7 linked regions of the Homo sapiens genome follow. The protein of the gene in region 1 purifies or fractionates together with the protein of each later gene. This does not show direct contact. Each region holds a gene or a part of one and is shown in the gene's direction. Other genes may lie near its edges.

The links.
Region 2: the proteins of SPATA24 (region 1) and ISCA1 purify together in Homo sapiens (affinity purification with mass spectrometry; one large-scale study listed by BioGRID and IntAct). This does not show direct contact.
Region 3: the proteins of SPATA24 (region 1) and BTBD1 purify together in Homo sapiens (affinity purification with mass spectrometry; 2 studies listed by BioGRID and IntAct, with this or other methods). This does not show direct contact.
Region 4: the proteins of SPATA24 (region 1) and GGPS1 purify together in Homo sapiens (affinity purification with mass spectrometry; 2 studies listed by BioGRID and IntAct, with this or other methods). This does not show direct contact.
Region 5: the proteins of SPATA24 (region 1) and RBM26 purify together in Homo sapiens (affinity purification with mass spectrometry; one large-scale study listed by BioGRID and IntAct). This does not show direct contact.
Region 6: the proteins of SPATA24 (region 1) and DCAF17 purify together in Homo sapiens (affinity purification with mass spectrometry; 2 studies listed by BioGRID and IntAct, with this or other methods). This does not show direct contact.
Region 7: the proteins of SPATA24 (region 1) and PM20D2 purify together in Homo sapiens (affinity purification with mass spectrometry; one large-scale study listed by BioGRID and IntAct). This does not show direct contact.

What each region holds. Positions count from the first base shown.
Region 1 is NC_000005.10:139,395,614-139,399,128, reverse strand, and holds the end of SPATA24 (spermatogenesis-associated protein 24), read left to right. Parts: intron 1-1,702; coding exon of another isoform or gene 1,703-1,776; exon of another isoform or gene 1,777-1,851; intron 1,852-1,985; coding exon 1,986-2,088; intron 2,089-2,173; coding exon of another isoform or gene 2,174-2,199; coding exon 2,200-2,329; downstream 2,330-3,515. UniProt on the Homo sapiens protein: Binds DNA with high affinity but does not bind to TATA boxes. Synergises with GMNN and TBP in activation of TATA box-containing promoters and with GMNN and TBPL1 in activation of the NF1 TATA-less promoter.
Region 2 is NC_000009.12:86,268,433-86,273,035, reverse strand, and holds part of ISCA1 (iron-sulfur cluster assembly 1 homolog, mitochondrial precursor), read left to right. Parts: intron 1-923; coding exon 924-1,029; intron 1,030-4,603. UniProt on the Homo sapiens protein: Involved in the maturation of mitochondrial 4Fe-4S proteins functioning late in the iron-sulfur cluster assembly pathway. Probably involved in the binding of an intermediate of Fe/S cluster assembly.
Region 3 is NC_000015.10:83,028,830-83,033,432, reverse strand, and holds part of BTBD1 (BTB/POZ domain-containing protein 1), read left to right. Parts: intron 1-3,104; coding exon 3,105-3,297; intron 3,298-4,603.
Region 4 is NC_000001.11:235,341,801-235,346,135, forward strand, and holds the end of GGPS1 (geranylgeranyl pyrophosphate synthase), read left to right. Parts: intron 1-210; coding exon 211-972; 3' UTR 973-2,732; downstream 2,733-4,335. UniProt on the Homo sapiens protein: Catalyzes the trans-addition of the three molecules of IPP onto DMAPP to form geranylgeranyl pyrophosphate, an important precursor of carotenoids and geranylated proteins.
Region 5 is NC_000013.11:79,371,220-79,375,822, reverse strand, and holds part of RBM26 (RNA-binding protein 26), read left to right. Parts: intron 1-3,892; coding exon 3,893-3,981; intron 3,982-4,603. UniProt on the Homo sapiens protein: May be involved in the turnover of nuclear polyadenylated (pA+) RNA.
Region 6 is NC_000002.12:171,436,485-171,441,087, forward strand, and holds part of DCAF17 (DDB1- and CUL4-associated factor 17), read left to right. Parts: intron 1-4,603. UniProt on the Homo sapiens protein: May function as a substrate receptor for CUL4-DDB1 E3 ubiquitin-protein ligase complex.
Region 7 is NC_000006.12:89,148,622-89,153,224, forward strand, and holds part of PM20D2 (xaa-Arg dipeptidase), read left to right. Parts: exon of another isoform or gene 1-643; coding exon 644-792; intron 793-3,164; exon of another isoform or gene 3,165-3,285; intron 3,286-4,421; coding exon 4,422-4,564; exon of another isoform or gene 4,565-4,568; intron 4,569-4,603. UniProt on the Homo sapiens protein: Catalyzes the peptide bond hydrolysis in dipeptides having basic amino acids lysine, ornithine or arginine at C-terminus. Postulated to function in a metabolite repair mechanism by eliminating alternate dipeptide by-products formed during carnosine synthesis.

The sequences.
Region 1 (3,515 bases):
AGCCAGGATGGTCTCCATCTCCTGACTTTGTGATCCACCCACCTTGGCCTCCCAAAGTGCTGGGATTACAGGCGTGAGCCACCACGCCTGGCCTTTTTTTTTTTTGAAGCGGAATCTCGCTCTGTCACCCAGGCTGAAGTGCAATGGCACGATCTCGGCTCACTGCAACCTCCGTCTCCTGGGTTCAAGCAATTCTTCTGCCACAGCCTCCAAAGTAGCTGGGATTACAGGCATGTGCCACCACACCCAGCTAATTTTTGTATTTTTAGTAGAGACGGGGTTTTACCATGTTGGCCAGGCTGGTCTCAAACTCCTGACCTCAGGTGATCCACCCGCCTTGGCCTCCCAAAGTGCTGGGATTACAGGCATGAGCCACTGTGCCTGGCCCCTTGTCCAACCTTTGAAGACAGTAGGATTTTCTTTCTGTAGGAATCAGAATTTTCCAAGGTGCCATGTGGGGCAGTTATGTAAATGAAGCACCCCCAGATCCCTACAGCCTCCTTGGATTTTGATCCAACACAGAAAAATTATCATTTATTTATTTATTTATTATTTAGAGACAGGGTCTTGCTCTGTCACCCAGGCTGGAGTGCAGGGGCACAGTCATAGCTCATTGCAGCCCCCAACTCCTGAGCTCAAGTGATCCTCTTGCCTCAGCAAGTAGCCAGGACTATAGGCATGTTCCAACACCATGCCCAGCTAGTTTTTTGTTTTTTTTTTTTTTAGTTTTGTAGAGGCGAGGTCTCACTATGTTGCCCAGACTGGTCTCTTACTCCTGGGCTCAAGCCATCCTCCTGCCTCAGAAAGTCATCTTTGCCTCAAATGTACGATTAATTTGGGGGTAGGCTTTGCCACCACTATCTCACTGGGTCCTCCCCAGACCACTGTGGGATAGGGCTGTCTCTTTCCCCATCTTTGAAATGAGGAAACAGGTCTGAAAATCGAGGCAACTCCCATCTTCTCCCACCACCCCTGAAGCCCTAGCACAAGGCTGGGCATCCAGCCAGCCCTCGGGAAGTTTGTTTGGACTGGGATGACTGAACTAGGTCTTTTTTCTGAGTCCTAAACCCCCAGGGACATCCCGTTCATTCGGTCTGCAAATATACTTTTTGTATACCTACTATGTGCCAGGTGCTGTTTTAGGCCTTAGGGATAAAGCCGTGAATAAAACAAAGATCCTTGTCCTTGTGGACCTTACATCCCAGCAGCGGAGAAGACAGATGAGTAAAGTATATGGTATGTTAGGTAAAAGTGTTAAGAAAAATAAAGCAGGATGTTGGGCATGGTGGCTCACGCCTGTAATCCCAGCATTTTGGGAGGCTGAGGTGGGTGGATCACCTGAGGTCAGAAGTTCGAGACCAGCCTGGCCAACATGGTGAAACCCCATCTCTACTAAAAATACAAAAATTAGCTGGGCGTGGTGGCAGGCGCCTGTAATCCCAGCTACTCGGGAGGCTGAGGCAGGAGAATTGCTTGAACTCAGGAGGTGGAGGTTGCAGTGAGCCAAGATCATGCCACTGCACTCCAGCCTGGCGACAGAGCAAGACTCAGTCTCAAATACAAAAAAAAAAAAAAGAGAAAGCAGGAAGAGGGAACAGGAAGTACTGGGAAATGTAATTTTTTGATGAGGGAGAGTTTCTCCAAGGAGGCAACATCTGTAAAGACCTGCAGGAGTTGAGGGCAGGCGCCATTCATCTTCCAGCCTTTGGTCAGGCCTGCCCACTTCTCTCCAAGGACCTTCTCCTGCCCTCATGTGGGTCCTCTGGTCCAGAATAGACTTGTGAAGTCATTGACAACAATCCTCAAACACTGCACTCCCCCAAGACTGCATAATAAACTCATTCATACTAAGGTATTAGCAGTTCTTCATGGAGAACTCTTGGGTGGGGAGCCAAGCTCTGAAAAGCCCCGTGAGGGAATGCCTTATCTCAGGAAGGAGCCCTGGGATGGGAACCACCCCTCCTCCCTGCCTCTCTCCCCCACAGAGATTGAGTCTCACATTATAAAGCAAGAAGATATACTTAATGGCAAAGAGAATGAGATTAAAGAGTTGCAGCAAGTTATCAGCCAGCAGAAACAGATCTTCAGGTGAGGGGTCTGGGCCCGGCTGGGGGTTGTTGATGACACTGGGGAGCCAGACCTCTGGCCCCTACCTACCCTTGGCTGTCCACAGCCCACCACCAGCCGGCTCCGTTGCAGGAATCACATGTCTGACTTCCGGATCCAGAAGCAGCAGGAGAGCTACATGGCCCAGGTGCTGGACCAGAAGCATAAGAAAGCCTCAGGGACACGTCAGGCCCGCAGCCACCAGCATCCCAGGGAAAAATAAAATGGCCGCCGCTTTCCTGTTCTCTGGCTGTAATCCCCAGCCTCTGCCTTCTCTGCTCTGGGAGTCCCCAGCCTCTAGCCCCTGCTACTTCCCTCCCTCTTGGATAGTGGTAGGGGTCCACAAGGTGGGGGCTTGTAGCCTAGGGGAGGAGCTGGGTCTTTGTTGTCTGGTAGGCACCACCGCTTCCTTTGGGTATTTAATCCCTTCCTATATAAACAGCCCTGGTTACCCAGTAATATTCCACCCCACTCCCAGTGTCCTGGTAAATTTAACTTCCCAACTTGACTACAGGGCCGGAAGCCCTGACCAGAAACTTCAAAGACAGTGGGTTCCAGAACCACAAGGAATTTGGGAAGTCAGTTTCCATCACATGACAATAATGTTATACCTGCAAATTGCATTTGCACCTGCTGACACCTCCCCCAAACGGGAGCTTCACAATGGGAGGAAGAGAAAAGACAATGCTGTGTGTGGTTTTAAGGTGGAGAAACAATCTGGGAAGGGACCTCAATTTGCACAAGTTGCACAGGCAGGGCTGGATGGGATGGAGCAGCAACATTTTTTCAGAAGCCATCACCGAGTGCCCCCTAGGTGATCATGGGGACACACCCAGGCAGAGGACCCACTTCAGGGGTCAGATTAGCCCAGTGTAGCCTGTCCTGGGTCGGTTTGAGGCCAAGTGCACAGGAGGGGGCAGTGCTCTTGCTCCAGGGCCAGCTGGGGCCTGAGTCATAGCAGGACCTTGAAGCCAGAAGTTTAAGGGCAAGTGGTGCCCACAGTTGTAAGACAATGACAGGTGGTGGTTGCCTCCCCACCAGCGCCTGTCCCCAGGGCAGGTCCTAAGGCTGTGGGGGCTGAAGTTAGGGCCTTGTGAATACCTGGGGGAGCACAGGGCTGTTCTGGCCGCAGGGGCCTTTGGAGCTGGGACCACAAGCTACTTCGAAGCTTCCTGTAGGACCCCACATCGGTATCCAGGGCCTGTTCTAGGTGCTGAGGCAGACTGAAAGCTAGAGCTGTCCACTCCAGCTCCTTCCAATAGGTCCCACCGAGGGCAGTGGGTCCAGCCAGTGGTAGTACCTTCCTGAGGCCCTGAGGAGTCAGGGAAGCCTCTAGCGGTGCTCCTCACTCTACTGAAGGGGATCAGGAAGAGTGTAACTGGGGTCAAGAAAGGTGGTGTGTGCACCCT
Region 2 (4,603 bases), on another chromosome or scaffold:
GAACTGCTGGTGAAATAGTACTTATGATACTTTTGCTGTATACAGTCACCTCTCCGTATCTGTGGGTTCCGCATACGTGGATTCAATCAACCATAGGTCAGAAATATTTGGGAAAAAAATAGAAGGTTGCATCTGTATTAAACATGTACAGACTTTCATTCTCTAAACAATACAGTATAACAACTGTTTATGTAGCATTACATTGTTACAGGTATTCAAGTCCTCCAGAAGTTATTTAAAGTACAGGGGAAGATGTATATAGGTTATATACAAATGCAGTGCCATTTGCATAAGGGACTTGAGTATCTGCAGATTTTTGTATACTCAGTTAGTCCTGGAACCAATTTCCCATGCATACTAAGGGATGACTGTATTTAAATGAAAAATCAGCTCAGCTCTAAGACAGAGAACTTAGGTAGATACTGTTTGAAAATTGCATTAATGTAAACATTGATACTTTTAAAGTGCTGTTTGGTCACTTTTTTAAACTTCTTTTGTCTGTATTGACTGCAGTCTTTTGCTTTCTGGTATTTGAGACTGTACACAAGTCTGCACTATAATTCAGATCCCATGTAGAGGTAGGATTGCCAGATGGTGGACTATGAACCCTGGTGAATCCTAACCATAAGGAAACATTCAGAGGATATCTCACAGAACAAGGTAGAGCAAAGACATTTTAAATAAAGTCCCAGGCTGGACGGGGTGGCTCCTGCCTTGTAATCCCAATGCTTTGAGAGGCCGAGGTGGAAGCGTTATTTGAGTCCACGAGTTTGAGACCAGTCTGGGCTACATAGTGAGACCCTGTCCTACAAAAAATAAGAGAAAGTCCATTTTGGTACGAGGAGGCTACTGTCACTTTATTAGTATAATTGTTTAATCTGTACTACTTTAAAACCAAGTTTATATTTTCACTTCTTTTTCAGGTAGGTGTAAAAGTTGGTGTCCGAACCAGGGGCTGTAATGGCCTTTCTTATACTCTAGAATATACAAAGACAAAAGGAGATTCTGATGAAGAAGTTATTCAAGATGGTGAGTTTTTAACAAACATTTTTTGGGCACATTGTTTTGCCTAAAATTATTAGCCTTGCACAGCACAAAGTAAAAAATAAGGATAGTAGCAGGAATTATGTAAATAATGCTCACTGTGTGTGTAGGTGTTGTTTGATGGAATTTCATGTATTAACTGATTTATACACAATGCTGAATGTGGGTGGTACCATATTATCCCTGTTTTTCTGATGAAGAAACTGAGGCACAGAGGGGTTAAATAGTTTAAGGTCATAATAAGTGGCCTAGTAAAATTCTTTCCAGAGACTGCTCTTAGTAACTAATTGATAAATTATTATATAAGCTTGTTTTAACTATGAAAGATCATCGTTGTGTCCAAAAAGTGAACCAGCCTTAAACCTCACAGTGAACCAACAGTTTTTGTGTAAGCAGTAGTTTTATATCTGTGTCAAATAAGTACGAGTTGAGCATTCCAATCCAAAAATCTGAAATCTGAAATGCTCCCAAATTCAAAACTTTAAAAGTGGGTGCTGACATGACACTCAGAGGAAATGCTCATTGGAGCTTTTTGGATTTGGGATGCTCAAGCAGTAAGTATAATGCAGATACAGTCATACATCACTTAACATTGGAGATACATTCTGAGAAATGTGACGTTAGACAAATATCCTGGGGTGTACTTAGACAAACCTAGACGGTCTGAGAAATGTGACATTGGACAAATATCCTGGGGTGTACTTACACAAACCTAGATGGTAGAGCCTACCATATGCCTCAGCTAGATAATATAACCTGTTGCTCCTAGGCTACAAACCTGTACTGCACGTGACTGTGCTGAATACTGTGCACAGTTCTGACACAATGGTAAGTATTTGTGTAAACGTACCTAAACAAAGAAAAAGTATAGTGAAATTTCTTTTATTATTATTATTATTATTATACTTTAAGTTTTAGGGTACATGTGCACAATGTGCAGCTTAGTTACATATGTATACATGTGCCATGCTGGTGTGCTGCACCCATTAACTCATCATTTAGCATTAGGTATATCTCCTAATGCTATCCCTCCCCCCTCCCCCCGCCCCACAACAGTCCCCAGAGTGTGATGTTCCCTTCCTGTGTCCATGTGTTCTCATTGTTCAATTCCCATCTATGAGTGAGAACATGTGGTGTTTGGTTTTTTGTCCTTGCGATAGTTTACTGAGAATGATGATTTCCAATTTCATCCATGTCCCTACAAAGGACATGAACTCATCATTTTTTATGGCTGCATAGTATTCCATGGTGTATATGTGCCACATTTTCTTAATCCAGTCTATCACTGTTGGACATTTGGGTTGGTTCCAAGTCTTTGCTATTGTGAATAGTGCCACAGTAAACATACGTGTGCATGTGTCTTTATAGCAGCATGATTTGTAGTCCTTTGGGTATATACCCAGTAATGGGATGGCTGGGTCAAATGGTATTTCTAGTTCTAGATCCCTGAGGAATCGCCACACTGACTTCCACAATGGTTGAACTAGTTTACAGTCCCACCACCAGTGTAAAAGTGTTCCTATTTCTCCACATCCTCTCCAGCACCTGTTGTTTCCTGACTTTTTAATGATTGCCATTCTAACTGGTGTGAGATGGTATCTCATTGTGGTTTTGATTTGCATTTCTCTGATGGCCAGTGATGACGAGCATTTTTTCATGTGTCTTTTGGCTGCATAAATGTCTTCTTTTGAGAAGTGTCTGTTCATGTCCTTTGCCCACTTTTTGATGGGGTTGTTTGTTTTTTTCTTGTAAATTTGTTTGAGTTCATTGTAGATTCTGGATATTAGCCCTTTGTCAGATGAGTAGGTTGTGAAAATTTTCTCCCATTTTGTAGGTTGCCTGTTCACTCTGATGGTAGTTTCTTTTGCTGTGCAGAAGCTCTTTAGTTTAATTAGATCCCATTTGTCAATTTTGGCTTCTGTTGCCATTGCTTTTGGTGTTTTAGACATGAAGTCCTTTCCCATGCCTATGTCCTGAATGGTAATGCCTAGGTTTTCTTCTAGGGTTTTTATGGTTTTAGGTCTAACGTTTAAGTCTTTAATCCATCTTGAATTAATTTTGGTATAAGGTGTAAGGAAGGGATCCACTTTCAGCTTTCTGCATATGGCTAGCCAGTTTTCCCAGCACCATTTATTAAATAGAGAATCCTTTCCCCATTGCTTGTTTTTGTCAGGTTTGTCAAAGATCAGATAGTTGTAGATATGCGGCGTTATTTCTGAGGGCTCTGTTCTGTTCCATTGATCTATATCTCTGTTTTGGTACCAGTACCATGCTGTTTTGGTTACTGTAGCCTTGTAGTATAGTTTGAAGTCAAGTAGCGTGATGCCTCCAGCTTTGTTCTTTTGGCTTAGGATTGACTTGGCGATGCGGGTTTTTTTTTTGGTTCCATATGAACTTTAAAGTAGTTTTTTCCAATTCTGTGAAGAAAGTCATTGGTAGCTTGATGGGGATGGCATTGAATCTATAAATTACCTTGGGCAGTATGGCCATTTTCACGATATTGATTCTTCCTACCCATGAGCATGGAATGTTCTTCCATTTGTTTGTATCCTTTTTTATTTCATTGAGCAGTGGTTTGTAGTTCTCCTTGAAGAGGTCCTTCACGTCCTTTTTAAGTTGGATTCCTAAGTATTTTATTCTCTTTGAAGCAATTGTGAATGGGAGTTCACTCATGATTTGACTCTCTGTTTGTCTGTTATTGGTGTATAAGAATGCTTGTGATTTTTGTGCATTGATTTTGTATCCTGAGACTTTGCTGAAGTTGCTTATCAGCTTAAGAAAATTTTGTAAAAGATCAAATGTGGTCGGGTGTGTTAACACAAGCCTGTTGTCCCAGCTACTCAGGAGACTGAGGCAGGAGGATTCCTTGAGTGTAGGAGTTCAAGAATGTAGTGCACTGGCCAGGCGTGGTGGCTCACCTGTGTAATCCCAGCACTTTGGGAGGCCGAGGTGGGTGGATCATGAGGTCAGGAGTTCACGACCAGCCTGGCCAACATGGTGAAACCCCATCTCTACTAAAAATACAAAAAATTAACTGGGTGTGGTGGCACACGCCTGTAGTCCCAGCTACTGGGAGGCTGAGGCAGGAGAATCGCTTGAACCCCAGGAGGCGGAGGTTGCAGTGAGCCGAGACCATGCCATTGCACTCCAACCTGGGTGAAAAAGTGAGACTCTGTCTCAAAAAAGAAAAAAAGACATCATAGTGCACTGTGTTCTTACCTGTGAATAGCCACTGCCCTTAAGCCTGGGCAACATAGCGAGACCTCCATCTCTTAAAAAAAAGAAAAAAAAAGGAAGAAGAAGAAGAAAATAAAACATGGTACACCTGTTTGTGGCAGTTACCATGCATGGAACTTGCAGGACTGGAAGTTGTCCGCGTGAGTCAGTGAGTGAGTAGGGAGTGATAAGTGAATGTGAAAGCCTAGGACGTTCCTCCGTAGTACTATAGACCTTATAAACCTTGTACACTTAGTCTTCAATAATAAATTAACCTTAGTTTACTGAAACTTTTTTACTTTGTAAGCTTTGGGGTTTTTTTTTTTTTTTTTGACTCTTTTGT
Region 3 (4,603 bases), on another chromosome or scaffold:
TCAATAATCCTTTTGATTTGCCTATATATTTGCCCTTTCAGTTATCTTCATTTTTTTCTGTATGACCAGATGTGTGCTTCTATCTGGGCACATTTCTGTTAGCTTGAAGAATTCTCTTCAATATTTCTTTTAAAACAGGTAGGATACTAACCAGATTCTCTCAACTCTTTTTTTCTTTTGTCTAAAAACATCTTTATCTTACCATTTTTTTTAAAAAAAGAGATGGGGCCCTGCTGTGTTTCCCTGGCTGGAGTGCAGTGGCTATTCACAGCTTCAAAATTCTGGCCTCAAACAATCCTCCCACCCCAGCCTCCTGAGTAGCTGGGACTAGAGGGGCACACTGCTGAGCCCAGCTTGCCTTCATTTTTGAAGGATATTTTTCTGGGTAGAAAGCTCAAGGTTGACAGTTATTCCCATCTATCATTTGAATGCAATTCTATTCTGTTTTTTTTTTTTTTTTTTTGAGACAGAGTAAGACTGTCACCCAGCCTGGAGTGCAGTGGCACAATTTCATCTCAGTGCAACCTCCACCTTCCAGGTTCAAGTGATTCTCCTGCCTCAGCCTCCTTAGTAGCTAGGATCACAGGCACCCACCACCGCCCTTGGCTAAATTTTGTGTTTTTAGTAGAGATGGGGTTTCACCATGTTGGGGAATGGTACCAAACATGTAGGCTTTTATCGCTCACCTCCCTCCTACCATTCCCCCCAAGTCCCCAAAGTTCATTATATCATTCTTAGGCCTTTGCCTCCTCATAGTTTCTTAGCTCCCACTTATAAGTAAGACCATATGGTATTTGGTTTTCCATTCCTGAGTTACTTCACTTAGAATAATGGCCTCCAAGTTCATCCAAGTTGCTGCAAAAGCCTTTGTTTCGTTCCATTTTATGGCTGAGTAGTATTCCATGGTGTATGTATACCACATTTTCTTCATCCAGTTGTTGGTTGATGGGCATTTAGGTTGGCTCCATATTTTTGCAGTTGGTAGTGCTGCTATAAACATGTACGTGCAAGTATCTTTTTCATGTAATGACTTATTTTCCTTTGGGTAGGTATCCAGTGGTGGAATTGCTGGATCAAATGGTAGTTCTAATTTTAGTTCTTTTTTTTTTTTGGAGACAGAGTCTCGCTGTGTTGCCCAGGCTGGAGTGCAGTAGTGCGATCTCGGCTCACTGTAACTTCTGCCTCGCAGGTTCCAGTGATTCTCCTGCCTCAGCCTCCCGAGTAGCTGGGACTACAGGCGCACATCACTGCACCCAACTAATTTTTGTATTTTTGTTAGAGATGGGGTTTCACCATGTTGGTCAGGCTGGTTTCAAACTCCTGACCTTGGGATCTGCCTGCCTCGGCCTCCCAAAGTGCTGGGATTACAGGCATGAGCCACCACCCCCAGTCCTTTTTAGTTCTTTAAGGAATCTCCATACTGTTTTCCTTAGTGGTTGTACTAGTTTACATTCCCACCAGCAGTGTAAAAGAGTTCCCTTTTCACCATATTCACGCCAACATCTATTTTTCTTTTTTTATTTTTTAATTATGGCCATTCTTGCAGGAGTAAGGTGGTACCTTATTGTGGTTTTAATTTGCCTATGTATGATAATCAGTGATGAGCATTTTTTCTTATGTGTATTGGCCGCTTGTATATCTTCTTTTTTTTTTTAATTATACTTTAAGTTCTAGGGTACATGTGCACAACGTGCAGGTTTGTTACATACGTATACGTGTGCCATGTTAGTATGCTACACCCATTAACTTGTCATTTACATTAGGTATATCTCCTAATGCTATCCCTTCCCCCTCCCGCTGCCCCACAGCAGGCCCCGGTATGTGATGTTCCCCTTCCTGTGTCCAAGTGTTCTCACTGTTCAGTTCGCACCTATGAGTGAGAACATGCGGTGTTTGGTATTTTGTCCTTGTGATAGTTTACTGAGAATGATGGTCTCCACCTCCATCCATGTCCCTATAAAGGACACGAACTCATCATTTTTTATGGCTGCATAGTATTCCATGGTGTATATGTACCACATTTTCTTAATCCAGTCTATCATTGATGGACATTTGGGTTGGTTCCAAGTCTGCTGGGCGAAGGATATGAACAGACACTTCTCAAAAGAAGACATTTATGCAGCCAACAGACACATGAAAAAGTGCTCATCATCACTGGCCATCAGCAAAATGCAAATCAAAACCACAATGAGATACCGTCTCACACCAGTTAGAATGGTGATCATTAAAAAGTCAGAAAACAACAGATGCTGGAGAGGATGTGGAGAAATAGGAACACTTTTACACTGTTGGTGGGGCTGTAAACTAGTTCAACCATTGTGGAAGATAGTGTGGCGATTCCTCAAGGATCTAGAACTAGAAATACCATTTGACCCAGCCGTCCCATTACTGAGTATATACCCAAAGGATTATAAATCATGCTGCTATAAAGACACATGCACACGTATGTATAGCTTCCTTTGAGAATTGTCTCTTCATGTCCTTTGCCCACTTTGTGCTGGGATTATTTGTTTTTTTTTTCTTGCTGATTTGAGTTGTAGATTCTGGATATTAGTCCTTTGTTGGATGCATAGTTTGCAAATATTTTCTCCCACTCTGTGGGTTGTCTGTTTGCTCTGCTGATTATTTATTTTGCTATGCAGAAGCTTTTTAGTTTAATTAGGTCTCATTCATTTGTTTTTGTTTTTGTTGCATTTGCTTTTGGGTTCTTAGTCATGAATTCTTTACCTAAGCCAATGTCTTGAAGAGTTTTTTTGATGCTATCTTCTAGAATTTTTATGGTTTCTTAGATTTAAGTCTTTGATCCATCTTGAGTTGATTTTTGTATAAGGTGAGAAAGGAGGATTCCTGGCATCCATGAGGAATAGCATTTATTCCTGGATCTAAGTTTTGACTAATTAATGCTTTTAACATTTTAATTAATGTGTTTAACCTCAAATGGATTTATTGAAACCTTAAAATATATGCAAAAATTATATATGCTAAGATTTTTTTCCCCTATTTTTATGTTACGTCCTCTAGATTTGAATTTACGTTAAGTGAATTCCAAAGTTAGGAATTGAAATCAAATTCCTTTTTTTAGGCTTATGTTTTTATTTCCACAGGTCCTGCTCAATCTGGAATTTTGTCAGATCGTGAAGTGGTAAACCTCTTTCTTCATTTTACTGTCAACCCTAAACCCCGAGTTGAATACATTGACCGACCAAGATGCTGTCTCAGGGGAAAGGAATGCTGCATCAATAGATTCCAGCAAGTAGAAAGCCGCTGGGGTTACAGTGGGACGAGTGATCGAATCAGGTATCTGTTATATTGGGGATGCGGGGGTAGAGTGGGGGTAGCAGTTACCATTTGGCCTTTTTTATATATTATGGGAGATAATTAACCAACATTTCATTTTATACTTCATTTAATACACTTTTAAGTTAAGTTAATATAGGAGTCAAGAAGTCACTGAGGCATCCTGCCCTCCTCACTGATTTATGAGTGAGGGTGACTTCTTAAGAAAAAAATAGAGTAAGAAAGGATTGGGTTGGACCTTCTGTTACGTGATTTTTTTGTTTTTCCCCAAGATGGAGTCGCTCTGTCACTCAGGCTGGAGTGCAGTGGTGGGATCTCTCACACTGCAACCTCCGCCTTCTGGGTTCAAGCGATCCTCCCACCTCAGCCTCCTGAGTAACCTGTAAGGCATGCATCACCACGCCCAGCTAATCTTTTTGGATTTTTAGTAGAGACGGGGTTTCACCATGTTGTCCAGGCTGGTCTCGAACTACTGACCTCAAGTGATCCACCTGCTTCAGCCTTCCAAAGTGCTGGGGTTACAGGGGTGAGCCACCACGCCCAGCTGTTACATGATTTTTGTTTGGATCACCACTGCCAGTGGGCTGAGTTCTAGACCTTAATTGATCAAACGTTATTTTTACAGGCTTAGGGCTACAATTAATAAATGTAACCTTACTATGTTTAGTGTGAGTTTTTTCTTTGCATAGATGTTGCAGGGAAAGTATCTCAGTATACATTTATAAAAGCCTTGAGAAAAAAATCAAGAATCTTGAAAAATGCATGCGTATAATCCTGTTGAAGAAATTGTCTTTGCTGTACTGTGTTTCTTTAGGTTGAATGTCAAAATAGAATCAGTGCCGGTTTTCACAAAACATGACTTTTGGATTTTCATTTATTTAATAGCACTTCAGTATAAAACTGGAAATTAACAAGTTTGTTAAAACAGAAAAATCTGGTTGGATGTGGGACTATTATAAATCTTAAGTTAACATGGAAATTAAAAATGTACTTGTAGACTATTTAATAATAATTCACAATAACTATATGCAAAAATTATGGGATGAGGCCAAAGCTGCACACAAAGAAAAAGTAATAATTAACTACTTGTAGTAAATAGAGTAGAAATAAATGATTTAAGCATTCAGCCCAAGTAGCTAGAAAACAAATAGCAAAAGAACTATAAGAAAAGAGAAAGTAAATAGATAAATGTAGAAATTAATGAATTAGAAATAGTAGAATTCATAAATCCATAAGCTGGTTCCTTTAAAAGACCAATAAAATAAATAAACCTCTGGCAAAGGTAATAAACATTCACATTTAGAAG
Region 4 (4,335 bases), on another chromosome or scaffold:
TTAATCCCCAAGAAATTAATAGCTGTCGCATAAAAATATTCCTAGTTCTTGATTGAATTTAGTCCTCATGCAAGATATTATTTTATATTGAGGTTGCTAAATATTTATTAGTTGTGAAAATTAACACACCTGAGACTTTCATAATCTGTTAATTAAACTGAGTAAGTTTTGAATAGTTCAAATAAGTGAAATTTTCAATTTTTTTATTAGATTATTATTGAAGTGACAGAAATGTTGCATAATGCCAGTTTACTCATCGATGATATTGAAGACAACTCAAAACTCCGACGTGGCTTTCCAGTGGCCCACAGCATCTATGGAATCCCATCTGTCATCAATTCTGCCAATTACGTGTATTTCCTTGGCTTGGAGAAAGTCTTAACCCTTGATCACCCAGATGCAGTGAAGCTTTTTACCCGCCAGCTTTTGGAACTCCATCAGGGACAAGGCCTAGATATTTACTGGAGGGATAATTACACTTGTCCCACTGAAGAAGAATATAAAGCTATGGTGCTGCAGAAAACAGGTGGACTGTTTGGATTAGCAGTAGGTCTCATGCAGTTGTTCTCTGATTACAAAGAAGATTTAAAACCGCTACTTAATACACTTGGGCTCTTTTTCCAAATTAGGGATGATTATGCTAATCTACACTCCAAAGAATATAGTGAAAACAAAAGTTTTTGTGAAGATCTGACAGAGGGAAAGTTCTCATTTCCTACTATTCATGCTATTTGGTCAAGGCCTGAAAGCACCCAGGTGCAGAATATCTTGCGCCAGAGAACAGAAAACATAGATATAAAAAAATACTGTGTACATTATCTTGAGGATGTAGGTTCTTTTGAATACACTCGTAATACCCTTAAAGAGCTTGAAGCTAAAGCCTATAAACAGATTGATGCACGTGGTGGGAACCCTGAGCTAGTAGCCTTAGTAAAACACTTAAGTAAGATGTTCAAAGAAGAAAATGAATAATGTTAAGCCATTCTTGATTGGACCTCATAGCTTATTTTAGTTAATCTTTTTTTTGTCTTTTAGCCTTACCACCTTTTAAAAAATTTGTTATTCTCCAGAAACAGTAAATAGGTGAGTAGGGGTGGTGCAAGTGAATTCGTTTTCATTTAGAAGCCCCTCTGTACAGATAATCAAAATTCAAAGTTGAAAGAATCAAAAGCAGCCACAGTTATGTAGGTCTGATTTGAATGTCATAATTGCAGTGACAGGACATTGCCACCAACTCTATCCTACTACCATCAATGTTGTGTTTATTCCGTCAATAAAAAAGACTTGCTTCCAGGAATTTTTATCCATACACTTTCTAACTGTACTATCTGGGCAGTTCCAAGCCAGTTTCTATTAGCTAGCTGGACCAAAGACCACAAATCTCTTTTTTTCCTAAACGCTGCTGTAAGGAATATCTCACTTTTCCCCCCGGAAACACCCTCACTGAAGTCTTCTATGAAAAGGCTGATAATGGGCTGGGCGCGGTGGCTCACGCCTGTAATCCCAGCACTTTGGGAGGCCGAGGCGGGCAGATCACGAGGTCAGGAGATCGAGACCATCCTGACACGGTGAAACCCTGTCTCTACTAAAAATACAAAAAATTAGCTGGGCGTGGTGGTGGGCGCCTGTAGTCCCAGCTACTCGGGAGGCTGAGGCAGGAGAATGGTGTGAACCCAGGAGGCGGAGCTTGCAGTGAGCCGAGATAGTGCCTCTGCACTCCAGCCTGGGTGACAGAGCGAGACTCCGTCTCAAAAAAAAGGGCTGATAATGATAAACAGTGAGCACTCCGGTCCTTTTTCTTAGGTTTTCCTTTTTTCCTTCCTCTCCACCCCACAAGTTTTGCTTTTTAACCAAGGTGTCTCTGCTTGATGAAATTCACATGCTAGTCTAAATCTTTTTTTCTCCCTTGTAACATTTATGTGCCCCAAACTGGTTAGTATATGGGTACAGCATTCCCTTTCCAATTGGGAAGCGGAAAAAGAGAGTATGGGATATTTTAGAAGGGAGCCTTTGAACCTTATTATATTTCCCCATCATTGATAGTGACAATCTTAAAAGGGTTGTTTTCTTACCTTAAGTACAAAAGCATGGAAAAATGCGCTTTTCCTTCCCGCCCACATCACCACCCCGACTTGAAGACAGTAGGTGCTTGAATGGAAAGTGAGTAGGCATCTTTAATCGCCCTGATTAAAGGAAAGTGTTAGCCTGAGAGGGCCTGACTGAAAAGTAACCAAAGGCTTAATATCAAACACTAATTAGCTTTTTAGTGCCTTAACCCTGACCTGGTTACCAGTTTTCTGTAGTTTCTACACCCAAGCCACTGAAGTCATCTGTGGCCCAAGAGGTAGGACAAAAAAAAAAAAAAAAAAAGCTGATTTCAATATTTGATTTGTTGACATCCCAAAATGAAAGTTTTATGTTTCCCTTAGAAACATGTTTTGCTTGGTTCTATAGTATGTTACTTAGGATCTATTTACCATATATTTGTATGAGAAATCCTCACCCAAGCATTCAACCTAAATCTTTGAAAAGTTGGGTGCTGTCTTTAGTAACTTTTAAAATAGTTTAAATCTCCCATTTTAATAGTGATAAGGAAACCTGTTAAAATCATGGCTATTGATGTTATAGTATGGAAAGTTGAACTTTATGAACCCATACTTTTAAAAAGCATTTTTAAAAATCTAACACTGACTATAGAAACAAATTAAAATGTCTACCTTTAAGTATAAAAATTGCTTAAGTAGATTTGTTCCTTGCCTATCAAATTAATTTTGGCCTGGTGTTCTTCATTATTCATTTGTTAATTTTATCTTGCCTTTGTCAATAACAGAAATGTTTGTCATTGAATTGGGAATTTTTTTTTTTTTTTTTGAGACGGAGTTTCACTCTTGTTGCCCAGGCTGGAGTGCAATGGCGTGATCTCAGCTCACTGCAACCTCCACCTCCCGGGTTCAAGCGATTCTCCTGCCTCAGCCTCCTAAGTAGCTGGGATTACAGATGCCTGCCATGTTGCCTGGCTAATTTTTTTTTTTTTTTTTTTTTTAAGTAGAGATGGGGTTTCACCATGTTGGCCAGGCTGGTGTTGAACTTCTGACCTCAGGTGATCCAGCTGCCTCGGCCTCCCAAAGTACTGGGATTACAGGCATGAGCCACCGCACCCAGCCAAATTGGGGACTTTTAACAGTCATTTTACCTGTAGAATAATCAAAACTCTTCACTTGATCTGTAGTCATAGCTATTAACACAGAAAAATGAATGCCAGTTATGTTGCCATAAACCACCTTCTGAACTTGGCAAGATCTTAAAACCATCAACTGTTCTCTGTTCACTCTGTGAACTTCTTTCTACTTTACTTCCTTCTCTACCTCACCTGTACTCTATAGTCACTCACTTCAATGACACTTAAAGAGCATTCACTCTCAGATCACTTTTCTCCTTTCCTTGCCCATTCTTATCTTGCCAACTCCCAGTCCTGGATAAATCCAAACATCCACGTTCTTTGTGCATCCGTGTTGCTCAGTGCTGCTGGGGAACATTTTCACAACTGCTGTTGGAACCATTGTGAGTTTACACATTCCAGCCTCTGCAACGCCTTTATTTTCCATCTAATCTTTCCTAGCAGAGATTTCTATTTGTTTTGTTTTGGTTTGAGACAGAGTCTCGCTCTGTCTGGCAGGCTGGGGTGCAGTGGCACGATCTCAGCTCACTGCAACCTCCGCCTCCTGGGCTCAGGCAATTCTCCTGCGTCAGCCTCCCGAGTAGCTCAGATTACAGGCATGTGCCACCACGCTCAGCTAATTTTTGTATTTTTAGTAGAGACGGGGTTTCACCATGTTGGCCAGGCTAGTCTCAAACTCCTGACCTCAGGTAATCCTCCCGCCTCTGCCTCCCAAAATGCTGGGATTACAGGCGTGAGCCACCACGCCCGGTGTCAGAGATGTCTTATTAAAGATCCCCTTCTTCTCTTCTTCCTCTCTTCTCCCACTAAATAGAAACTCTCCTAACTTTCCTTCCCTCTACTTTAGGTCTGTCTTTACATAGTCTGCTATTTTCAAGAAGAGTTTGACCTGCCCTAGGTTCTCATGTGCTTGAATTTCCCCCTGTCTATTGAGGGCCTTGTCCCATTCCATCTTCCCTTCTAGATATCTCTCATCTAGATAATCTCAAGATCTATCCATTGATTCTTTTTTAATCAGTGTACTGAGAGGAAGAAAGAGGGCAAGGAAATACATACTTATGAAGTATCTTACCGGGTACTAGATACTTTACATGTTTTCCTCAAGCATTTACTGAGGAATGCCAGGGCCTTGAATACAGATCAAAGTACCTGGCTCT
Region 5 (4,603 bases), on another chromosome or scaffold:
TAATACATTTTATTATGCAATAAAATATATATTATAATATGTAATCTCAAATATATTTATATCTCTATCTGAATATATTTACACACATGTATATTTGTATATTTTCATATACACATACCCACATGTAACATCCCAATCAGTTTTATCTGCCTGGGAAGACCAGAAATGTAATTTATAACTGAACCTATTTCATACCTAACAGTATAAGGGTTCTGTTAGGAAGAAAGGGACGGTGTATATTGTGTTGGCAATTGCTTATGCAACATAGAGATATGCAATGGTTTATTCAAGTTTTGCCTACTGGTGGAACTTTGGTTTGGTTTCAGATTTTTGCTGTGAAAAATTATACTTTGGCTGGGCACTGTGGCTCTCGCCTGTAATTCCAGCACTTTGGGAGGCTGAGGCGGGTGGATCACCTTAGGTCAGGAGTTCAAGACCAGCTTGGCCAATATGGTGAAACCCTGTCGCTACTAAAAACAAAAATTAGCCAGGCATGGTGGCAGGTGCCTGTAATCCCAGTTACTCGAGAAGCTGAGACAGGAGAATCGCTTGAACCTGGGAGGCAGAGGTTGTAGTGAGCTGAGACCATGCCATTGCACTCCAGCCTGTGTGACAAGAGCTAAACTCCGTCTCAAAAAAAAAATATATATATATAATATATATAAATATGAATAATATATATTATTTATTTTTAAAATATAAATATATATTTATATGATATATATAAATATATATTTATATATATCATATAAATATATAAAAATATAAATATATAGTATATAAAAAATGTATAAAATATATATAATATATATATTATATGTATGCTTTAATTCTCAGAAAATCTTGAGTAAATCACAGTCCCTTGGCTTGAGTAGTCTTCCCCTAAATCGAGTTAGTAGCAAAGCCTTAGTCTTATTATCTATTGATGTAATAATACTTCCTGTTTTTTCAACCAATTGTGGGAGATACTTATCCCTGATCTTTCAGAATTGTTGAAATGCCAGATGGCAATCTACGTTTAAAATGCTGTGGCTATACTAAAAGTTTGCAGATGGGCATGTACTGTGGAATATGGTGATCTGTTAGATAACTCGCAAAAGTGCATTGAGGAAATAGAAGGGAAAGAGTGCATCAGAAGGGTCGTATTAGTACCCGGTTTTTTGTCTGGTCTGGGAGGAGAGCTGGAATAGGTGGAAAGAGTACGAAAGTACTTGAATTTAAAAAGGCAAACTGTTGAAAGAATGCTTTAAAGATTATTTCTCCTAGTTTGGTCTGTTAATAGGATTTCCATTTGATTTCTCATCTAAAGTGGCACACTTTTTTTTGTTTGTTTTTTGAGACGGAGTCTTAGTCTATTGCCCAGGCTGGAGTGTCGTGGCCCCATAGTGGCTCACTGCAACCTCTGCCTCCTGGGTTCAAGCAATTCTCCTCTCTCAGCCTCCCAAGTATCCCTCCTGTAATCCCCTTTTGGGATTACAGGCGCGTGCCACCATGCCCAGCTAATTTTTGTATTTTTAGTAGAGATGATATTTCAGCGTGTTGGCCAGGCTGGTCTTAAACTGCTGACCTCAAGTGATCCACCCACCTCTGCCTTTAAAAGTGCTGGGATTATAGGTGTGAGCCACTGTGCCCAGCATAAAGTGGTACATTCTGACAGTCAGAAGCCCTTATCAAAAGGATGCTGGAACAGCTGGCATAAACTGGGACATGTGTACCCTGTGCGTAGACTACCTGCATGAGAATATCTTATGGTTCTCAGTAACACAAAATCTTGAGCCCTATCTTATTTATAGAAGCCACTTGCACGATATTTCCTGAATTTGTTCAACCTCTAAGTCCCTTTTTCTAATTACCTAGAAAAACAGTGATTCCTGTCGTTCCTGTTGTTGAGGACCATTATTCTCAACAATATAGTCTGGAGAAAGTAGCACTGAGAATATTTTCCAAGGTTGCTTTCTAGTAGCTATATAATGTGAATGGAGGCACCTTGTAGGAAACAGAAATATATAGCTGTCATGCTGCTGTGAGAAACTGGAGAACTATTTCACCTTATATATTGTTTTCCCAGATATATATATATAAAATATTATATATTATTATATATAGTAATATATATATATAAAATATTATATATTATTATATATAGTAATATATAATATATAAATATATAAATAGACTATATAAATATATATAGTAATATATAATATATAAATATACTATATAAATATATATAGTAATATATAAATATATTATATAAATATATATAGTAATATATAAATATATTATATAAATATATATAGTAATATATATAAATAAGTATATTTATACATATTATATATATTTGTATATTTATACATATTATATATATTTATATATAATATATAATATATATTTATATTTTATTTATATATAGTATATAATATATATTATATATATTTATATATAATATATATTATATATTTATATATTTTATTTATATATAATATATATTTTATATTTATATATATTTATTTATATTTTTATATATTTATATATAAATATATAAATACATTAGAACTCACCAAGTCATAAATACATACACACATAAACATATACATATTTATATATATTTATATATTTTTATATATTTTATATATTTATATAAAAATTTATATAAATATATAATACATAAAATATATAATATATAAGATATATCTTATATATTATATAAAATATGTAATATATAAGATATATCTTATATATTATATAAAATATGTAATATATAAGATATATCTTATATATTATATAAAATATGTAATATATAAGATATATCTTATATATTATATAAAATATGTAATATATAAGATATATCTTATATATTATATAAAATATGTAATATATAAGATATATCTTATATATTATATAAAATATGTAATATATAAGATATATTTTATATAGCATATAAAATATTATAAATATATTTATATTTATATAATATATAATATATTTATATAAAATATTTATTATAAATATATATCATATAATTATAATATATATCATATAATTATATATAATATAAAATATATAATAAATTACAATATGATACATAAATATATATAATATGTAAATATATATTTATATATATAAACATGTATATGTTTGTGTGTGTGTATGTATTTATGACTTGGTGAGTTCTAATGTATTCTCCTATATTCCTTGATGTGTTTGGTACCACACCAAGTCCACGAAACCAAAACATGAATATATGTTAGACTTTTGAAAGAGGAATAAAATTGGATTTCCATTAATTATGTTAAATGAGCATACTTGCTTAAAATGTTTTCTCACCAATGTAATCATTTCATTATAGTTAAATGATTATACTTAGTAGAGAAATTTACTTTGTTTGGATAATTTTAGAAGATGACAATTTTGCTTCTACGTTATATAAACTAATTTTAATGTTAATTAAATTTTATTTAATGTTAATTAAATGTTAATGTTAATAAAGTCATTAAAGCAGTAATGTGTCTAAGGCTTTTTTTTGTTTGTTTGTTTGTTTTGAGGCAGAGCCTCACTCTGTCGCCCAGGCTGGAGTGTGCACTGGCGCGATCTCAGCTCACTGCAACCTCTGCCTGCCAGGTTCAAGCGATTCTCTTTCCTCAGCCTCCAGAGTAGCTGGGATTACAGGCCCCTGCCACTGTGCCCAGCTAATCTTTGTATTTTTAGTAGAGACAGGGTTTCACCATGTTGGCCAGGCTGGTGTCGAACTTCCGACTTCGTGAACCACCCGCCTCAGCCTCCCAAAGTGCTGGCATTACAGGCATGAACCACTGTGCCCAGCCCTATCTAAGGCTATTTAACAGTGGAATAATTACTAAACTTGTACACTTTTTTTTTTTTTTTTAATCAGATCACTAAGGAGGAAGAGCGAGAGAAGAAGTTTTCTAGAAGGCTAAATCACAGTCCTCCCCAGTCAAGCTCCCGATACAGGGAAAATAGGTGAGCAGTTCATTGAACCATACTCAGTGTTTCGATGTAAGTTATCTTTTATACAAATGTTTAGACTTGGGTTATCTTTTACGCAGAGGCAAGTAATATCTACTCTTTTATTGGTCTAGGAAAATATAACTAGGTCCGTTTCTACCATGAAAATCTAGGTCAGATTTGTAGATCTTGGGAGTGAGTTTAGAACAGTGCTTGACATATATTAGCTGCTTATCTTTTTATTCCTAACTTCAGATTCCAGTAGAATCTTAATGTGTGGGTGTTTTTTTTTTGCCTGCTGTTTCCATTTAGTGTGATTAAATTGTTTTTCTCATTCAGGCTTCAAAAGCACTTAGAATACAATGCATGTGATACATGTCTGTAAGTGAGATTATATGTACGGGATAGTATGTTCTATATGTACTCTAAGTCTTATATACAGATGCCTTTATCTACAGATGCCTAATTGTATAGTTGCCAATGTGTAATAAGACTAAGGGTTAAGGCTTTAAAAAGATTGTTTTTCATTTAAAAGGGATTTAAAGTACTGAATATTAAGCTCAGTTTTTTCAGTTGTCTGATGGTAGGATAGAAAGTTAAGTTACAAGAATTAAATGTAACTTTTGCATTTAATTAG
Region 6 (4,603 bases), on another chromosome or scaffold:
CTTGATGTGTGACTCACAGCATCTCACTGTGGTTTTGATTCCATTTTCCTGATGACTAGTGATGTCAGGCATCTTTTCTTGTGCATATTAGCCATTTGTATGTTATTCTTTGGAGAAATGTTTGGTTAGATATTTTGCCCACTTGTAAATTTTTTTTTTTTTTTTTACAAAAATCCTTACATATTTTAGATACAAGTCCCTTATCAGATATATGATTTCAAATACTTTCTCCCATTGTGTAGATTGTCTTTTTACTTTCCTGATGTTATTGTTTGAAACAGAGAGGTTAATTTTTTTTTTTTTTTTTGAGACAGAGTTTTGCTCTTGTTGCCCAGGCTGGAGTGCAATGGCGTGATCTCGGCTCACTGCAGTCTCCACCTTCCGGGTTCAGGTGATTCTCCTGCCTCAGCCTCCCGAGTAGCTGGGACTACAGGCATGCGCCACCACGCCTGGCTAATTTTGTATTTTTGGTAGAGACCGGGTTTCTCCATGTTGGTCAGGCTGGTCTCGAACGCCCAGCTTCAGGTGATCCGGCCACCTCGGCCTCCCAAAGTGCTGGGATTACAGGCATGAGCCACCGCGTCCAGCCACAGAGAGGTTAATTTTGATGAAGTCCAATTTATCTAAATTTTTTTCATTACTCATGCTTTTGGTGCCATATCTAAGAATCCATTGCAAAATTTGAGGTCATTAAGATTTGCTCCTAGGTTTTTTTCTAAAGGGTTTATAGTTTTAGCTCATATTTAGGTGGTTGATCCACTTTGAGTTAATTTTAGTATAGGGTATAAGGTAGGTATCCAACTCCATTTTTTTTAACATGCAGCTATACATTTGTCCTAGCACCATTTATTAGAAAGACTTTTCTTTCTTCATTGCAAGGCCTTGCCACCCTTGTCAAAAATCAATTGACCATAGACACTTTTGGATTTATTTCCGGACGTTCAAGTCTGTTCCACTGATCTGTATGTCTGTCCTTATGTCAATACCACATTGTCTTGATCACTGCTGCTGTGTTATTTCTTCTTTAAATGCTTGGTGGAATTAACCATTGAAAGCATCTGGGCTTGGCACTTTCTGTTTTGGTAGGTTGTTCATTATTGATTACATTTCTTTAATAGATACAGACTTATTCAAGTTATCTAATTCTCCTTGGGTAAATTTTGATAGATGGTGTCTTTCAAGGAATTCATCTAAGTTATCCAAACTTGTGAGCCTAGACTTATTCATAATATTTCTTTATTATTGTTTTAACGTCCATGAGATCGGTAGTGATAGCCACTCTTTAATTTCTCATATTAGTAATCAATTTTGTTGACCTTTTCAAAAAAACAGCTTTTGGTTTTGTTGATTTTCTCTATTGATTTTTGGTTTTCAATTTTACTACTTTCTGAGCTAATTTTTGTTATTTCTTTGCTTACTTTGGATTTAATTTGCTCTTCTTTTACTAGTTTCCTAAGGTAGAAACTTAGATTACGATTTGAAGTCTTTCTCCTTTTCTGCATATGCACTTACTGCTATACCTTTTCCTCTAAGCATTGTTTTTGTTGCATCCCACAAATGTTGATACGTTGTATGTGCATTTTCATTTAGTTCAGAATATTTTTAAATTTCTCCTGGGACTTCTTTGACCCATGTGTTATTTAGATGTGTGTTGTTCACTCTCCAAATATATTGGGATTTTCCAGTTATCATTGTTTTATTGATTTGTGGTTTAATACCACTATGACCCAAGAGCATACTTTATATTAGTTCTAGTCTTTTAAATTTGTTAAGGTGTCTTTTATGGCTCAGAATGTGGTCTACCTTGGTGAACGTTTCGTGTAAGCTTGAGAAGAATGTGTATTCTGCTGTCGTTGGATGAGATATTCTGTTTGATCCAGTTGACTGATGGTACCTTTCAGTTTAAGTATATGCATAATTACTAACTTTCTGCCAGCTGGATGTGTTAATTACTGATGGGTATTGAAATCTCTATAATAGTGAGTGGATTTATCTATTTCTCCTTGCATTTCTATCCGTGTTTGCCACATTGTGTTTTGATACTCTGTTGTTAGATGCATATGTATTAAATATTGTTATGCCTTCTTGGAGAATTGACACCTTTTTCATTATCTTATGCCCACTTAATCCCTGGTAATGTTCCTTGCCAAATTCGACTTTGTCTGAAATTAGTATAGCTACTCCAGCTTTCTTTTGTTTAGTGTTTACACATTGTATCTTTTGCCATTCCTTTACTTTTAATCTATCTGTGCCTTTTTTTTTCCCCCCCAAAGTCAGGGTCTGGCTGTGTCTCCCAGGCTGGAGTGCAGTGGCACAATCATAGCTCACTGTAACACCAAACTCCTGGACTGAAGCAATCCGACCATCTCAGCCTCCCAAGTAGCTAGGACTATAGGCATGTGGCTATTTTTAAAACAATTTTTTTAGAGATAGGGGTCTCAGTCGTGCTGTGTTGCCCAAGCTGATCTCATACTCCTGACCTCAAGTAGTCCTCCCACCTCAGCCTCTGCTGAGGATTACAGACACGAGCCACCAGAACACTTTAGGTATTTATGTCTCTCTCTGCTTGCTCTTATGCTCTCTGAAGAGAAATCCAAATTAATTCTTATTGTTCCCCTATATAGTTAAGGTGCTTTTTTTTCATCTGGCTTCTTTCAAGATTTTCTCTTCACTTTTGATTTTCTGCAGTTTGAATATGCTTCCCAGATTTGGGGCTTGGTATCTGTCAGTTTTGGAAAATTCTCAGCCATTATTACTTCAAATATTTATTTTTCTCTTTTTCTTCCTTCTGGTATTCCCATTATGTGGATGTTATACCTTCTCCAATTTTCCTGTAATACTTGAATATTCTGTTCTACTTTTTCTTTCTTTTTCCTCTTTTATTGCCCCAGCTTGGGAAGTTTCTGTTGACCTATCTTCAAACTCACTGATTCTGTCCTTGGCTGCATCCAGTTTACTGATAACTGTTAAAGGCGTTCTTCATTTCTCTTATGGTGTTTTTTGATTTCTAGTATTTCTTTTTTTTCCTTTTTTTTTTTTTTTTTTTTTAGAATTTTTATCTGTGTTTAATTTACCCATCTTTTCTTGCATGGTGTCCACTTTTCCCAGCTCTGATCCTGTTAATCAGCTATTTAATTAATTAGTTTAGAAATGAGGTCTTGTGACTGGGTGCGGAGGCTCACACCTGTAATCTCACACTTTGGGAGGACTAGGTGGGCAGATCACTTGAGGCTAGGAGTTCGACACCAGCCTGGCCAACATGGCGAAACCCCATCTCTACTAAAAAAACAAAAATTAGCTGGGCATGGTGGCACACACCCATAATCCCAGCTACTCCAGAGGCCAAGGCAGAAGAATTGCTTGAATCTGGGAGGTGGAGGTTGCAGTGAGTTGTGATTGCATGCCACTGCACTCCAGCCTGGGTAACAGAGCGAGACTCAAAAAAGAAAACCCCAAAAAACCCCAAACAAACAGTAAAAAACAAGAAATGAGGCGTTGCTTTGTTGCCCAGGCTAGAGTGCAGTGGCTTTTCACAGGTATGATAATAGTGCACTGTAGCCCCAAACTCCTGCACTCCAGTGATCCTCCTCCCTCAGCCTCCTGAGTATAGCTGGAACTACAGTCACATACCATCGCACCTGGCTTAATCATTGTTATTTTAATTTCTGGTCTGCTAACTCTAAAATCTCTGCCATATCTGAATCCAGTTCTGATGTTTGTTTTGTTTCTTCAAACTTTTGTATTTTGCCTGTTAGCATGCCTTGTCATTTTTTTGGTTGAGGGCTATATATGATATGATATATTGGATAGGCCAGGCACAGTGGCTTACTCCTGTCATCCCAGCACTTTTGGAGGCCAACGTCTGGGGTTGCTTGAGCCTAGGAGTTTGAGACCAGCCTAACCAACATGGCAAAACCCCATCTCTACAAAAAATATCAACATTAGCTGGGCATGGTGGCACACACCTGTAGTCCCAGCTACCAGGGAGGATGAGGTGGGAGGATCGCTTGAGCCCAGGAGGTCAAGGCTGCTCGAGCCGTCAGCATGCCACTGCACTCCAGCCTGAGCAACAGAGCGAGACAGTGTCTCAAAAAATTTTACAAATTTAAGATAATATTGGATAAAAAGAATTAAATAGGCCTTTAGAGTGAGATTTTATGTTTATCTGAGTAGGAGTTCGGCTATGATTATTGTTTGTTGTAGCCGTAGGTATTAGAGGTTAAAATTTCCTCTAGTGTGCTTATTTTTGTCTCCCCCATTGTTGGCTCCAGTGGCTTGTTCCTGGGCTTATGTTCCTGGAAAGCTGTAATTGTCAGTATCCACCTTTCTCTCCAGTTTTGGAGGCAGCAGTTTGCCCTGTGACCTGAATTCTCTGATGGATCTAAGAATAATTATGGATTTTCAGATTGTTCAGCATTTTTCGTGCTATGAGGACAGACGGGTGGCACTTCCAGGCTGTTTTCGTCTTGGACCAGAAACCAGAATTTAGAGAGAATAGTCAGCTTTTGAGATTTGTTCTAACCCCAAGAGGGCTCTGTCCTGCTAGCTTTTTCTGGTTATTTCTGGCAAATTAGCCAGCCTACAATTTAGCCTGTATCTCCGC
Region 7 (4,603 bases), on another chromosome or scaffold:
TGTTTAATGTTCTTCATAAAGGATTAATGAGTTCAGACTTTTAAAATAGGTAGCCCAGTAAGGAATCAGAGTTTAGGCCAGAAGATCAGGACATCTAATCCTAATTCTGCCTGAAGACTTGCTCTGTGACCTGGGGCAAGACACTTCACTCAATTCCTCAAAAACACCCCCTGTAAAATGATGATAGAGATCACCCACCTACCTCACAGGGTTGTTGTGAGGATAAGTAGTAAGTTAACAGAAAGTTTCTGACTCGTAAAGTACTTAAGAATAATTATATACATACATACACTGAAAGGCTTAGTCGAGAGGAACCTTTTTGAAACAAATCCTAACAAATTTTGAGGGACTAAACTTGTAGTATTTTTTTTTATCTTTGCCATTAGTTGACTTGTAAAATTGGGAAAAGCTTTTTATAGTGTCTTTAGTACATACTTTGCACCAAGTTGGTATAACAATGTACATTTTGTGATTAATTTAGCACCATTTGTTGATGCCCATTGCGTAAGCGTCATAGAACAAAACCTGTCTTAATAGGTTAAGGACTTTAATGTAGATTGTGAATACATATGCAGGTGAACCTGTTTGATATATTCCTATGAGGATTTTGTTGTTTTTCCCTGACATGAGTATTTCCTTCTAGGTAGTTGTCCTGGGAACCCCTGCAGAAGAAGATGGTGGTGGCAAAATTGATTTAATTGAAGCAGGGGCTTTTACAAATCTTGATGTTGTTTTTATGGCCCACCCATCACAAGAGAATGCTGCTTATCTACCAGATATGGCTGAACATGAGTGAGTAATCAAGTTGAAGATAAACTTCTTAGGGGAACACAGGCTATAGAATACTTTTATGTCTAAACCAGAGACGAAAACTCCACATTTGTATATTTAAGAAGTAAATTGAAAGACAATAACAAGATGTCTTGATCTATGGAGTGACATTTGGCAAGCCTCTTCTAATTGAGATTCATTATGGTGTTCATAATTGGAGTATTAAAATAGTAGCACTTAGAAACCATAGGAATAACAAACATGTTGACAATTAAGTTCTCTTTTGAACTGTCAATAATCTGGTGTCTGGAAAACATCTGTCCTTTCATATGAAATTGTCTTTGCAACTGAATAGATTTGCGAGAGATCGTTCTATTAGCTATGGGAAGAAACCACACTTATCCATTTTATTTACTTTAATTTGAGTTCTTTGCAAAGAGGATAAATTATGTCCTGAGAGAGAATATGGAACATGAGTAGCTATGGTTTTTGTGGAACTTCTCATTCTGTGCTTTTCCGATTTGTCTGGTGCTGAAACCTTTTATTTGTCTTTCTTTATGTTGAAGAACTCACTTTTTAGTACCTAGGAGCACACATCATTGAAGTGGTTTGGATTTTTTATACCAGAAATTTCAACCATAGTAGTAACTATAGTAGTTAATGGTCCAGGCACAAGGAGCCAGTGCTCAGCTGCTTCAGCAAAACCATGTGTTTTCCTCAGAAGTAGCTCGGTACTGAGGGAATGATAGCAGAACCATCACAGCAGTGCTTCTAGATTGTACCCGGGTATCCCACCTCTTAGCACCTTACCAGGCCCTGTTTTCAAAGGGTGATCATTTTAACTATTAGGGTATCTTCCTTCTTATCACTGGAAATTGGTACTGTGGCAGTAGGAGGAATCTTTGAACTTTGGTTTCAAGGGTGGTGGTAAACTAGTCCATCTCTAGAAAACACTGGGGATTAGAAATCTCTGCCCTTGCCTTTGACTAGAAGGGGCCTGCATATGCAGGCAGGCTCTGCAGCTCATTACCCTTCTGGGACTTAAGGTTAGGCTTCGTGGTCTTGGTTCTGAAGTCAGCGCACTTGACCCCAGACCTTCTCCTAGTATCTGCCTTCTTAGCTTTCTCACTGATCATCTCTTTTTTTTTTTTTTTTTTTTTTTTTTGAGGCTGAGTCTCACTCAATTGCTCAGACTGGAGTGCAGTGGCACGATCTTGGCTCACTGCAACCTCCGCATCCCAGGTTCAAGTGATTCTCCTTCCTCAGCCTCCTGAGTAGCTGGGATTACAGGCGTGCGCCACCACGCCCAGCTAATTTTCATATTTTTAGTAGAGACAGGGTTTCACCGTATTGGTCAGGCTGGTCTTGAACTCCTAACCTCAAGTGATTCACCCACCTCGGCCTCCCAAAGTGCTGGGGTTACAGGCATGAGCCATCACACCTGGCCTTCATTGGTCATCTTTTAAGATAGAAAAGAGAGGTCAGGTGCAGTGGCTCACACCTGTAATCCCAGCACTTTGGGAGGCCAAGGCAGGTGGATCACCTGAGGTTAGGAGTTCGAGACCAGCCTGGCCAACTTGGCAAAACCCCATCTCTACTAAAAATACAAAAATTAGCCAGGCATGGTGGGCACCTGTAATCCCAGCTACTTGGGAGGCTGAGCCAGGAGAATTGCATGAACCTGGGAGGCGGAGGTTGCAGTGAGCCAAGATCGTGCCATTGCACTCCAGCCTGGCCACCAGACAAGTGAAACTCCATCTCAAAAAAAAAGAAAAAAAAAAAGAGAACAAGATCAAGAATTCATTTTTTTTTAAATTACTAATCCACTTTTCTTAAAAATTCTTTTTTTTTTTTTTCCGAGAGAGTCTCGTTTTGTCACCCAGGCTAGAGTACAGTGGCGCAATCTCAGCTCACTGCAGCTTCCGCCTCTGGGTTCAAGGGATTCTCCTGCCTCAGCCTCCCATGGACCTGGAATTACAGGCAAGCACCACCACACCCAGCTAATTTTTGTATTTTTAGTAGAGACAGGGTCACCATGTTGGCCAGGCTGGTCTTGAACTCCTGACCTCAAGTGATCCACCCGCCTTGGCCTCCCAAAGGGCTGGAATTACAGGCATGAGCCGCCAGGCCCAACCACAAATTTCTAATGAATAAGATAAAGCAATCCTGCTGACCACCTTTCCCAAATCCAGTCCTTTTTCTAGAGGTATGTATCCTTTTCAGAGTGTTTTTGGTGTACTTATGGGACATAAATAGAATCCTGTATAAATTGTGAAAGAAGGTTTTCCTCAAGTATTCCACTCAATATATTGTTCTGGCTTTTTAAAATTAAATAGTATGTCTTGAAAATAATTCCATATAATCCTTCTCGTTTTTATAATATTTATCACCAGTTGTGATGAAATTCCGGTTTTGCCAGGCCAGGTGGCTCACACCTGTAATCACAGCACTTAGGGACGTCAAGGCAGGAGAGTCTCTTGAGCCCAGGAGTTCATGACCAGCCTGGGCAACATGGTGAGAACCTGTCTCTACAAAAAAAAATAAAAAATTAACTGGGCATGGAGCACTCCTGTGGTCTCAGCTATTCATCTGTGGGAAGCTGAGGCAGAGGAGGATTGCTTGAACTTGGGAGGTGGTGACTGCAGTGAGCTGTGATCACGCCACTGCACTCCAGCCAGGGTGACAGAGGGAGATGAGTACCAAAAAAAAAAAAATTCATTTCAAGGTCATGGTGATAAGATATATATCAAGGAAATAACAATACAGTATCCTGAAATCTAATACGTGTTTGATGTTTTTACTTGATTTTTGTCCTGCTAATAGAATGTCTGGAATCAGTTGAGAAGAAATATCATAAGCATTCTAAGGACTCCTGAATCTAACCCATTAAAATAAGTCCAGATTGGTTTTCTAATCACCTAAATGTGGGTATTATTAATCAGGCTTAAAAAGTGTTATCAAAGCACGTCAATCACAGAGCTTTATAAGTAACTATTCAACACGCAATCCTTTCTCTAATCTTTTTTTTTTTAATTGTATTAGAGCAGTTAGACTGGTGTGAGAACTTAACAGTTTATTAAAATGTAAAATATTAGTGATGTAGGCATTTTGGAACATAATAAAATATTGGATATTGGTCAGGAACAACTGCTTTAATACTAGGGTATCTTGTGATAACATTGAATATAATCTGATTTTCAGAGGTTGTCTTAACCCACTTCAAATAGTAACTCCTTTCTGGCTTTCCTGACCTTCCACCTCTTAAGACAGAATTTCTGATTTTTTACAGACTTTTGATAATAGAATCATCACAATGCTGTGTAAAAACATACAGGATCCATTTTTTTTTTTTGTAATTTCAGCACCTGATACCATATTGCATGTTTGCATTAGATTGTGTATACATTTAATCTTTTCTCTTTTTCTCTCTTTTTTGGGAATGCTTTCTTTGTGTCAAGCACTATGTTACCTAATAATAAACTATAACTAACATAAATAAATTGCAGTGTTATTACTACAAATAATTTGCAAATCAAAAGTCCAGCAATGTGAATTAATTTTGAATAGTAGTTGGGTAATTCTGACTACCTGGATTTTCTTACTTTAGCAATAATAACAAAAGTAATTTCAAATGATTTTTTATTTCCTAGTGTGACTGTGAAATACTATGGAAAAGCATCTCATTCTGCTTCTTATCCCTGGGAAGGATTAAATGCATTAGATGCTGCTGTGCTGGCCTATAACAATCTGTCTGTGTTCAGACAGCAAATGAAACCAACCTGGAGAGTTCATGGTATGAATGTCAAATACCTTCTATAATAGATGGTGCTTG